Linked DNA regions of Homo sapiens. The protein of the gene in region 3 interacts with the protein of the main gene of each other region in a pairwise test. Each region holds a gene or a part of one and is shown on either strand. Other genes may lie near its edges.

Region 1 (2,428 bases), on a different chromosome or scaffold from region 3:
CCCGCTTGTTATGTAGAGGGTGAAATGAAGCCCAAAACAGTCAATCGTGAACTCTAAGCCGATCAGGTGGGAAAGCCGGCATCTCTAGAATGAAAACCTAAGGCTGCTTCTCCCACTTTGCCTGAGCAAATATAGTGAGATTACACAGCAAGGCATGTGTAAATTGCCAGTGCCTATTTCTCAGAACCAGATTTGGTGATCGCAAAGACTGACGTGGCCCTCTAGGTGTGCCTATACTGCACCAGAAGAGCAAGCCGAGAAAGCAGTGCTCAAACCTAGAGCATTCAACCTTTCATACCGATAAAGGCTTTAAAAAAAAAAAAAAAAAAAAAAAAAGCCCAGGTAAGTGAAAAAGCCGCTTTCGGTCAACGACTTAAGTCTTTACGGCTGTGAGCGCTATGGGCCGCGGTAGCTTTCCGTTAACTTCAGATCCGATTGTCGCCCCACTGCCAAAGTTACCTTCCAACATCGTTACTGTTGCACTTTACGCAGTCAAGTGTCCAACTCCTCAGATGAGCAAGTGGTCGGCCCTAAAAAGGGCCTTTGGGATCGAAACGTGCAAAGCTGGAGCGGCGGCCTAGCCTCCGAAGCCGTACAGGGTGCGCCCCTGGCGCTTGAGCGCGTACACCACATCCATGGCTGTGACGGTCTTGCGCTTGGCGTGCTCGGTGTAGGTGACTGCGTCCCGAATCACATTCTCCAGGAACACCTTCAGCACACCGCGGGTCTCCTCGTAAATGAGGCCAGAGATCCGCTTAACGCCGCCACGCCGAGCTAGACGCCGAATGGCAGGCTTGGTGATGCCCTGAATGTTGTCTCTCAAGACCTTGCGGTGGCGCTTAGCGCCCCCTTTGCCTAAGCCTTTTCCGCCCTTTCCTCTGCCGGACATGACCGCTGGAGCCCGATAGACAGCTTCTGTCAAGGCGAGCACCGTCTTCCCCTGATATACAAGAGTATCGGACCAGATTGAAAACCGAAAGCGCGCCGGCGGGAAGCGTTCTCAATTGTCCCCGCCCTCTCGACATTTCGTCATTTCTTTTCTGTTTTCCTCTCCCTCCTCCTCCACTCTGCTCAGGTCCCTCTCACTCTTTTTTTTTTTTAACCGCTACGCCACAGTCCCCGGGAGAATTCAGATCCCAACCGGGGCTTCCGGATTCTGTAGTGGCTTTGGCCTGTGTCTGGTCTGAGGACGCCCGGAAGGCATTGCACTGAGGCTAAGGGAAAGGTCTCTGGAGGGAGCCTCAGGAAGAGCAAATGGAGGCCAGAGACTGGCAGGAGCGCGCCAGCGCAGGATTTAATCCCGACGAGCGGATTCAGAGCCGTGCTTATATAAAGCTTCAGGAAGCGCCGTTCCGACGATGAGGTCGACACGCGAGAGGCGACCTCAAGAGCGGCGGCGCCAGGGATCTGTGCGCCAAGGGAGGACGGGAGGGAGCAGGTTCGCCATAATTCCTGGCTCCAGGCTCTGTTTTGTTGGACCGAGCCACTGTATTTTAGCTCACACAGGAGAATTCTGGCCCTGGGAAAATTGGTCTCAGCATGCTGCCAAGCTTTCTCATGGACGTCAGCGAATCCCAACACACTGTCGGTCAAAGCCGTGCTGGAAGAAACAAAACAGTTCTCCCTCGGTAGAACTGAGAGGGGATTGGTCCAGGGCCCCCGCCGATACCAAAATCCAGGTTGCTCAAGTCTCTCATAGAAAGTGGCGTAGTATTTGCACATAACTATGCACATCCTCCCGTGTACTTTAAATAGTCTCTAAATTACTTCGTAACACCTAATCCAGTGTAAATGCTATGTAAGTAATTGTTATACTGTTTTTATTTTTACTATCTTTTGTTGTACTTTTTTTTAAAAAAGAAATTCATTTGTTTAATATTTTCGGTCTTGGGGAACCCGCGTATATGGAGGGCCTGCTACATAGAGAAGACTGAGGGATATTCTGTGCATCCGTTTCTACGGATCCTCTAAATCGGCCTTTGTTTTCAGCCAGGATTTAGTGCCCAGCTGTGTCCTTTGGAGGCCCCACATGGAGCTAGCAAAGTTTGCTAAATCGGGTTTTGCAAGAGGACTGTCTGCTCCATACTGGGAGTAGTTACCGCAAACTGCCCTATGAAATTGGTTGGGGTTCTTACTGTTAGCATGTTTATTACTTTATCAGGGCTCTCTGTAGGAGAGTCTATGAGAAAATCTTCTGGTTTCTGCTGAAAGAATCGTGTTTTGTTGGGGTTTTTTTCCCGAAAAATATTATTTTTAAAAACTCTTCTGTGCCCTGTTTAATCTCTCCCTTGGATCCACCTTCTGTGTGCTCATAAATCGTAAATCTGTATTCAGACTTCTGGACTCGAGACACGTAGATCCACCTGGTGGTTCTTCAGTCATTTTAAGCCCAAAACTCAAAATCTCCCGAAATCAAAATGTTTAAACT
Region 2 (2,180 bases), on a different chromosome or scaffold from region 3:
AATAAGTTCTTGCTATGTTCAGCAGTTGGATTCACAGCGCCAGAAACCTATAACTGCTTGACTTTCCTCCCCACTACACTGCGAAAATTGCCCCTTAAATGTAACTAACCCTAAAACCTCAACAGTATCGTGGCCAGGCGTGGTGGCTCACTACTGTAATACCAACATTAGGCATAGGCGAGGGGATTGAGGCCAGGATATCGAAACTAGCCTGGGAAACACACGGAGACCCGGTCTTTGGAAAAATAATTAGCCTTGCGTGGTGGTGGGCGCGAGGTTCCGGCTAATCGGGAGGCTACAGTGAGCCATGATGACACTGCACTACAGTCTGCGCGACGGCCCATGTCAGTAAGCTCTGGAGCACCTGAAACAAGTTGTGTTGGGTATTTTATTTACTGGAGAGCGATTAGTGACTGATGCCTACTTACAGCGACTAGAGACGCATGCTCCGATAGCAGCACAAACTCAGCAGGCGCGAACAAATGGTAAAGAGAAACTGGGCAAACAAGCATCACGGCTCCTCAGCTGAGAAAGTGGGGGCCCTAAAAAGGGCCTTTTGTTGATAGAAAGGGACGCTCAACCACCGAAACCGTAGAGGGTGCGGCCCTGGCGCTTGAGCGCGTAGACCACATCCATGGCGGTGACCGTCTTGCGCTTGGCGTGCTCTGTATAGGTCACGGCGTCCCGGATCACGTTCTCCAGGAACACCTTCAGCACCCCGCGAGTCTCCTCGTAGATGAGGCCGGAGATGCGCTTCACGCCGCCGCGGCGAGCAAGGCGCCGGATGGCCGGCTTGGTGATGCCCTGGATATTGTCGCGCAGTACTTTACGGTGGCGCTTAGCGCCGCCTTTGCCAAGACCCTTCCCGCCTTTGCCGCGGCCAGACATGACGAGCAAGAGGAGTCTCACCCAACGCTTTGTGAGGACTCTGGCCTGAGGCAGCGCCTTTATACGACAGTTGGCGGACCGAACTGAGAACCTGAAAGAAGTCGGCGGGAAGTCCCGCCCCGGTGGGGGAGGGGAAATCTAAAGGGCCAAACCGAAATAGGGGGAAAAAAAAAGCGAGCTTCTTGTTTCCGTGTTCTGAATTTTGTAACGTGCATAGTATTTTGTTACCACGTTATGAGGCTTTAAAAAATTGCTTTTGAACGCAGAAGATATACATCAATACTGTGGGAAATACAAGAAAGGACAAGAAATTAAGAAACTACAATGTTATCCCATCACACAGGCTAGTTAATCATGTATTTTGCAGAGCAGTTGCACATATTTTTCCAAGAAAATGTATACAGTGTTGTATATGGAGTTTTGTAACCTCCTTATATTGATTATAATTTAACCAATTTCTATTAAAGAGATAAAAGTGATGTTTTGGTGTCTATGTTTCTTAGGAATTATCAATAGTTATAATCAGTTCCCCAGCAATTTTTTAATCGGCTGTATTTTAAAAATAATGTTTTCCACATTCAACATAAATGTACTTTTTCTCTATACTTGGGACCAATATTGAAATTTATGATTTTATTACACCAAAATTTAAATTTTATTACATTAATATTTAAAATTGTATTAGAGGTCTCATGATTTGGTACTACGGGTCTCCGCATTATTTCCTTTCCAAATTTCCTAATCTGTTTCACCAAGGTTTCTGGACAACTTTAGAGACCTTTTGTGAAGTTTGAATAAAATCTCTTCGAGATTTTGATAATTGCATTAGCTTTAGGACTTAATTGGAATAGAATTAAAATCCTTAAAACAAGCTCTTATAACTAGAAAATTGGTGTTTGTAGGTTTTGTGTGTGGGGTTTTTTTTTTTTTTTGGAAGGAGTCTCGCTCTGTCGTCAGGCCGGAGGGCAGTGGTGCAATCTCGGCTCACTGCAACCTCCACCTCCCGGGTTCAAGCGATTCTCATGCCTCAACCTCCGGATTAGCGCGGACTACAGGCATGCGCCACCACGCCCAGCTAATTTTTTGTATTTTTAGTAAAGAACAAGTTTCACCATGTTGGACAGGATGCTCTTGATCTCTTGACATCGTGATCCGCCCGCCTCAGCCTCCCAAAGTGCTGGGATTACAGGCGTGAGCCGCTTCGCTTGGACGCTTGTAGGTTTTTAAAAAGACACTTTTATATGACCCAACTAAAGATTTGTTATCAACCATTATGGAGCAACTTTGATTCC
Region 3 (3,663 bases):
ATCATTAAGACAGTGACTTTTCAAAATTTTAAGTTTGAGAAAACAAAACTCTGTGTTCAAAGTAAATCCTACTTGGAAGCCCCGCCCCCCCCCCTTTTTTTTTTAAAGGAGAGCTCTTCAGGTTGTTTTAGCTAAAGGAATCAGGAAACTTGAGTATCTTTGTAGCAGAAGGGTTAGAGCCACTGGAGTCCATGGAATGGGATGTTGAAGGTCAAAGTGGAGCAGATTTGGAGCAGTCTCAGGAGGGAGGAGACGATTGGATCAGGAGGGGTCTTAGCATGCCGAGGCACATTTCTTCCATTGACACCATGGAACAGAAGGTGCTACGAGGAAAAAGGATCCTTTTGCATGTGGTCACATGAGAGTAGTGGGTAGAGGAGCTTTGGAGTAATCGTGGATTTGAGATACGGTTTTTTCAACCACACTGAAATAGTAAGCTATGTTTGCTTCAGAGAGGAACGGCTAGATACTGATATTAAGACATGGAAGCGAGTGTTCATTAAGCATTCCACATAGAAGGAGCTGCCTGGAACTGAGAAATGGTTTGCTCCTTTTGGTGGTTGCTCCAGGCCCCGGTCTATTTTACTTCTTACCTGTCTGGCTCCAGTAGGCATTTGTGTTAGTTGTCCCTGACCTGAGACACAGGGTGAGCTAAAATGGAATGTGCAAAGAAAAGGCAATATAGGTCAGGAAGAATAACACAATTGTAATGTGAACCCTCCTATCTTTTTAAGCGTCAGCAACTAATTCAGGTTTTTTTATCTATGAGCACAAAAAAGAATGTTCTTGTTTGCTGTATTTGCTTAGATGTTCTCTACTTGTATTCTTTCTGCTAACATGTTGCTACTTCTTGGAAGTTACCGTACTTTTTATATGACTTTGTTACTTTACAAGGCCTTTTTCATGATTATTTAATACTATAGTCTTATTCACACACCAGATGGGCGGAGAGGTTAACCTTGGCACTGCACTAGCAGTTAAACCAAGTATGCTGGCAGGGCCAATGTATGTGTGTTTAGGGACAGGTAGGGGTTAGCGTGGGTTTCTGATTGATTTGAGGATGCTTCTGACTTCAGACTCAAAGGGTGTTCATACTGTGGAGGGTTAAAACCTTTCCTGTTTTGATGAATCCTAAAATAAGATGCTAATTCAGTGCAGTACTTACAGTGAGTTGTATTTGAACTAAAAAGCTATTGGTCTGCTTATTATATGGTTACTTGAAATTTCAGTGAATAACTATATCATCTTCATAACTGAAAGAGGACAGTTGTTTTAGATCCAAGGTGGAACTGAATTAAGTTGCATAAGGCAGCTACCAATATTTTCCAGTGCAAATGGGCTTTAAGAATAAATTGATGTGGCAAATGAACCCACATTTTTGGGTTTTCTCTATGCATGTTTCTGTCTTTGTCTTGTCAGTTTGTGTTGTATTCTGCCAGGTCAAAATCTGTTAGGTTGATTGAACTAAGTGATTTGTGAATTTTAATCCTGAGTGTGTGTGTGTGTGTTTCTTTCTCCTCACATTAGAATTTGGTGGCTTTGGTTCTGTAACAGGAAAAATTGAATGTGAAATTAAAATCAATCACGAAGGAGAAGTAAACCGTGCTCGTTACATGCCGCAGAATCCTCACATCATTGCTACAAAAACACCATCTTCTGATGTGTTGGTTTTTGACTATACAAAACACCCTGCTAAACCAGGTATGTAATAATAGAGTTAGGTCATTACTTGAGCAGTTTTCTTGATTCAAACTGGTAATGTTTTTAAGGTCAAAGTAGCATACTTTATAATATTTAAAGGTTTAAAAATTGCTTTGGGGGTCCCATAACCATCCTCAAGTTCAGGGATTTGCCAGAACTACCTAAAAGCAGCTTATACTAACAGCTAAAGTTTATTACAGCAAAGAATCCAGAGCAAGAGTAGGAAGAAAAAGATACACATCAGGGGAAGTCCAGAGGGGTTAGCTACAGGCGTCTGAGTCCTTCCCATCCAGGGCCACGTGGGACATGTTTTGTCTCTAGCAGCAAACCATAGGAACATGTGCTAAATGTCTCTACCCAGGGCAGCCCATTTGAGTTTCAGAATCTGGGATTTTTGTGGAGGTCTGTTGGCGTGGGCACATCCTGTTCTATGACCAGCCATGGTAACAAAATTGAGGACCCCAATAGTGAAGCCAAATACATTGTGAATCTTGCTAAACAATCCTACAAGTCTTGACAGGTCCCTATGGCATACCCCACTGCTCTGGGCTTACAAAACTTTATCAGTCAGTGACGTGAAGAACTTTCTGAGGGTCACATTCCCAGGGGTTGGCCAAGGGTCATTTATGGTTGCAGGCTACCCTAGAGGCATGCAAGGACTGAGCAACCAGACCTGTTGTGTTAGAAATATTTCTAAAAAATTGGGGGGTTGCGGGGATACGGTCACCACTGCCCAAATTTGTAGGATAGCTATAGTTTTTAATATTTTTGTGTTGGGGATAGTATTAGGTTTTCCAAAGAAACCAATCATCTAATGGTCATGAGGCTCAATTTGCATTGGGTATTAAAGACCAGATCTCGTTCGTGTGCAGTTGCTGTAATGGTTCACTCAATGAAGGAGTGAGAATTTATTCTCACCAGTTCTGATAAACAGAGAATAACTTAATGTTTTTCATCTTTTCTTAGACCCAAGTGGAGAATGTAATCCTGATCTCAGATTAAGAGGTCACCAGAAGGAAGGCTATGGTCTCTCCTGGAATTCAAATTTGAGTGGACATCTCCTAAGTGCATCTGATGACCATGTGAGAAACGTATTCTTTGTAATTTGTTCATATAGTGAGAGCTGACGTGTCACAGCTGTGCTGAAGGAGTACTATATAGATGAAAGGTTTTCTAAGATAATACTGCTGATTATTGTGGTAACATTCCCCCAGGACTTTAGAGAGATGGTTTTCATACTGCCCTGTATGAGTCTTCGGATTCCACAGAGCTCTTTTGAAGTAGCCTTAGAATGGAGGGAGCATAGGCAAAAGGCCTCCCATTATTTAAAAGAGGACCCTCCAGGCCCTTAAAATGGAAACTGTAGAGTGTTTGTGGGACCTGATTAATATAAAGTATTTTTTAAGTGTACAGTTCAGTGGGTTTTAGTATATTCACAAAGGTGCACAACTATTGCCACTAATTCTAGAATGTTTTCATTCGCTCTCTGAAAGAGAAATTCCATACCCATTAAGCAGTGACTCCCCACTCATTCCCTGCCTTCCCCCAGCTCCTGGTAAGCACTAATTTATTTTCTGTCTCTATAGAGTTATCTGTTCTTGGTATTTCATGTAAATGGAATCTCATATATGGCCTTTTCTGTTTGGCTTCTTTCACTTAGCATAATGTTTTCAAGTAACATTACTTATGTTCCATTCCTTTTTATGGATGAACAATATTCCACTGTATGGATATACCACAGTTAGCTTATTTGTCAGTTGATGAACCATTTGAGTTCTTTCTACTTTGGGGCTATTTTGAATTATGTTACAAGCATTTGTTTACAAGTTTTTGTGTAGATGTATGTTTTTATTTCTCTTGGATATATACCTAGGAGTGGAATTATTGGATCATATGGTATCTCTGTTTAATTTTTTGAAGAATTACCAAACTGTTTTCCAAAGTGGCTTTCCATTTTACATT

The links.
Region 1: the proteins of RBBP7 (region 3) and H4C14 interact in binary tests that used the Homo sapiens proteins (3 or more experiments, as listed by UniProt).
Region 2: the proteins of RBBP7 (region 3) and H4C12 interact in binary tests that used the Homo sapiens proteins (3 or more experiments, as listed by UniProt).

What each region holds. Positions count from the first base shown.
Region 1 is NC_000001.11:149,831,146-149,833,573, reverse strand, and holds H4C14 (histone H4), read right to left. Parts: upstream 918-2,428; 5' UTR 890-917; coding exon 578-889; 3' UTR 522-577; downstream 1-521. UniProt on the Homo sapiens protein: Core component of nucleosome. Nucleosomes wrap and compact DNA into chromatin, limiting DNA accessibility to the cellular machineries which require DNA as a template.
Region 2 is NC_000006.12:27,830,640-27,832,819, forward strand, and holds H4C12 (histone H4), read right to left. Parts: upstream 922-2,180; 5' UTR 889-921; coding exon 577-888; 3' UTR 535-576; downstream 1-534. UniProt on the Homo sapiens protein: Core component of nucleosome. Nucleosomes wrap and compact DNA into chromatin, limiting DNA accessibility to the cellular machineries which require DNA as a template.
Region 3 is NC_000023.11:16,856,714-16,860,376, reverse strand, and holds part of RBBP7 (histone-binding protein RBBP7), read left to right. Parts: intron 1-1,527; coding exon 1,528-1,701; intron 1,702-2,667; coding exon 2,668-2,783; intron 2,784-3,663. UniProt on the Homo sapiens protein: Core histone-binding subunit that may target chromatin remodeling factors, histone acetyltransferases and histone deacetylases to their histone substrates in a manner that is regulated by nucleosomal DNA.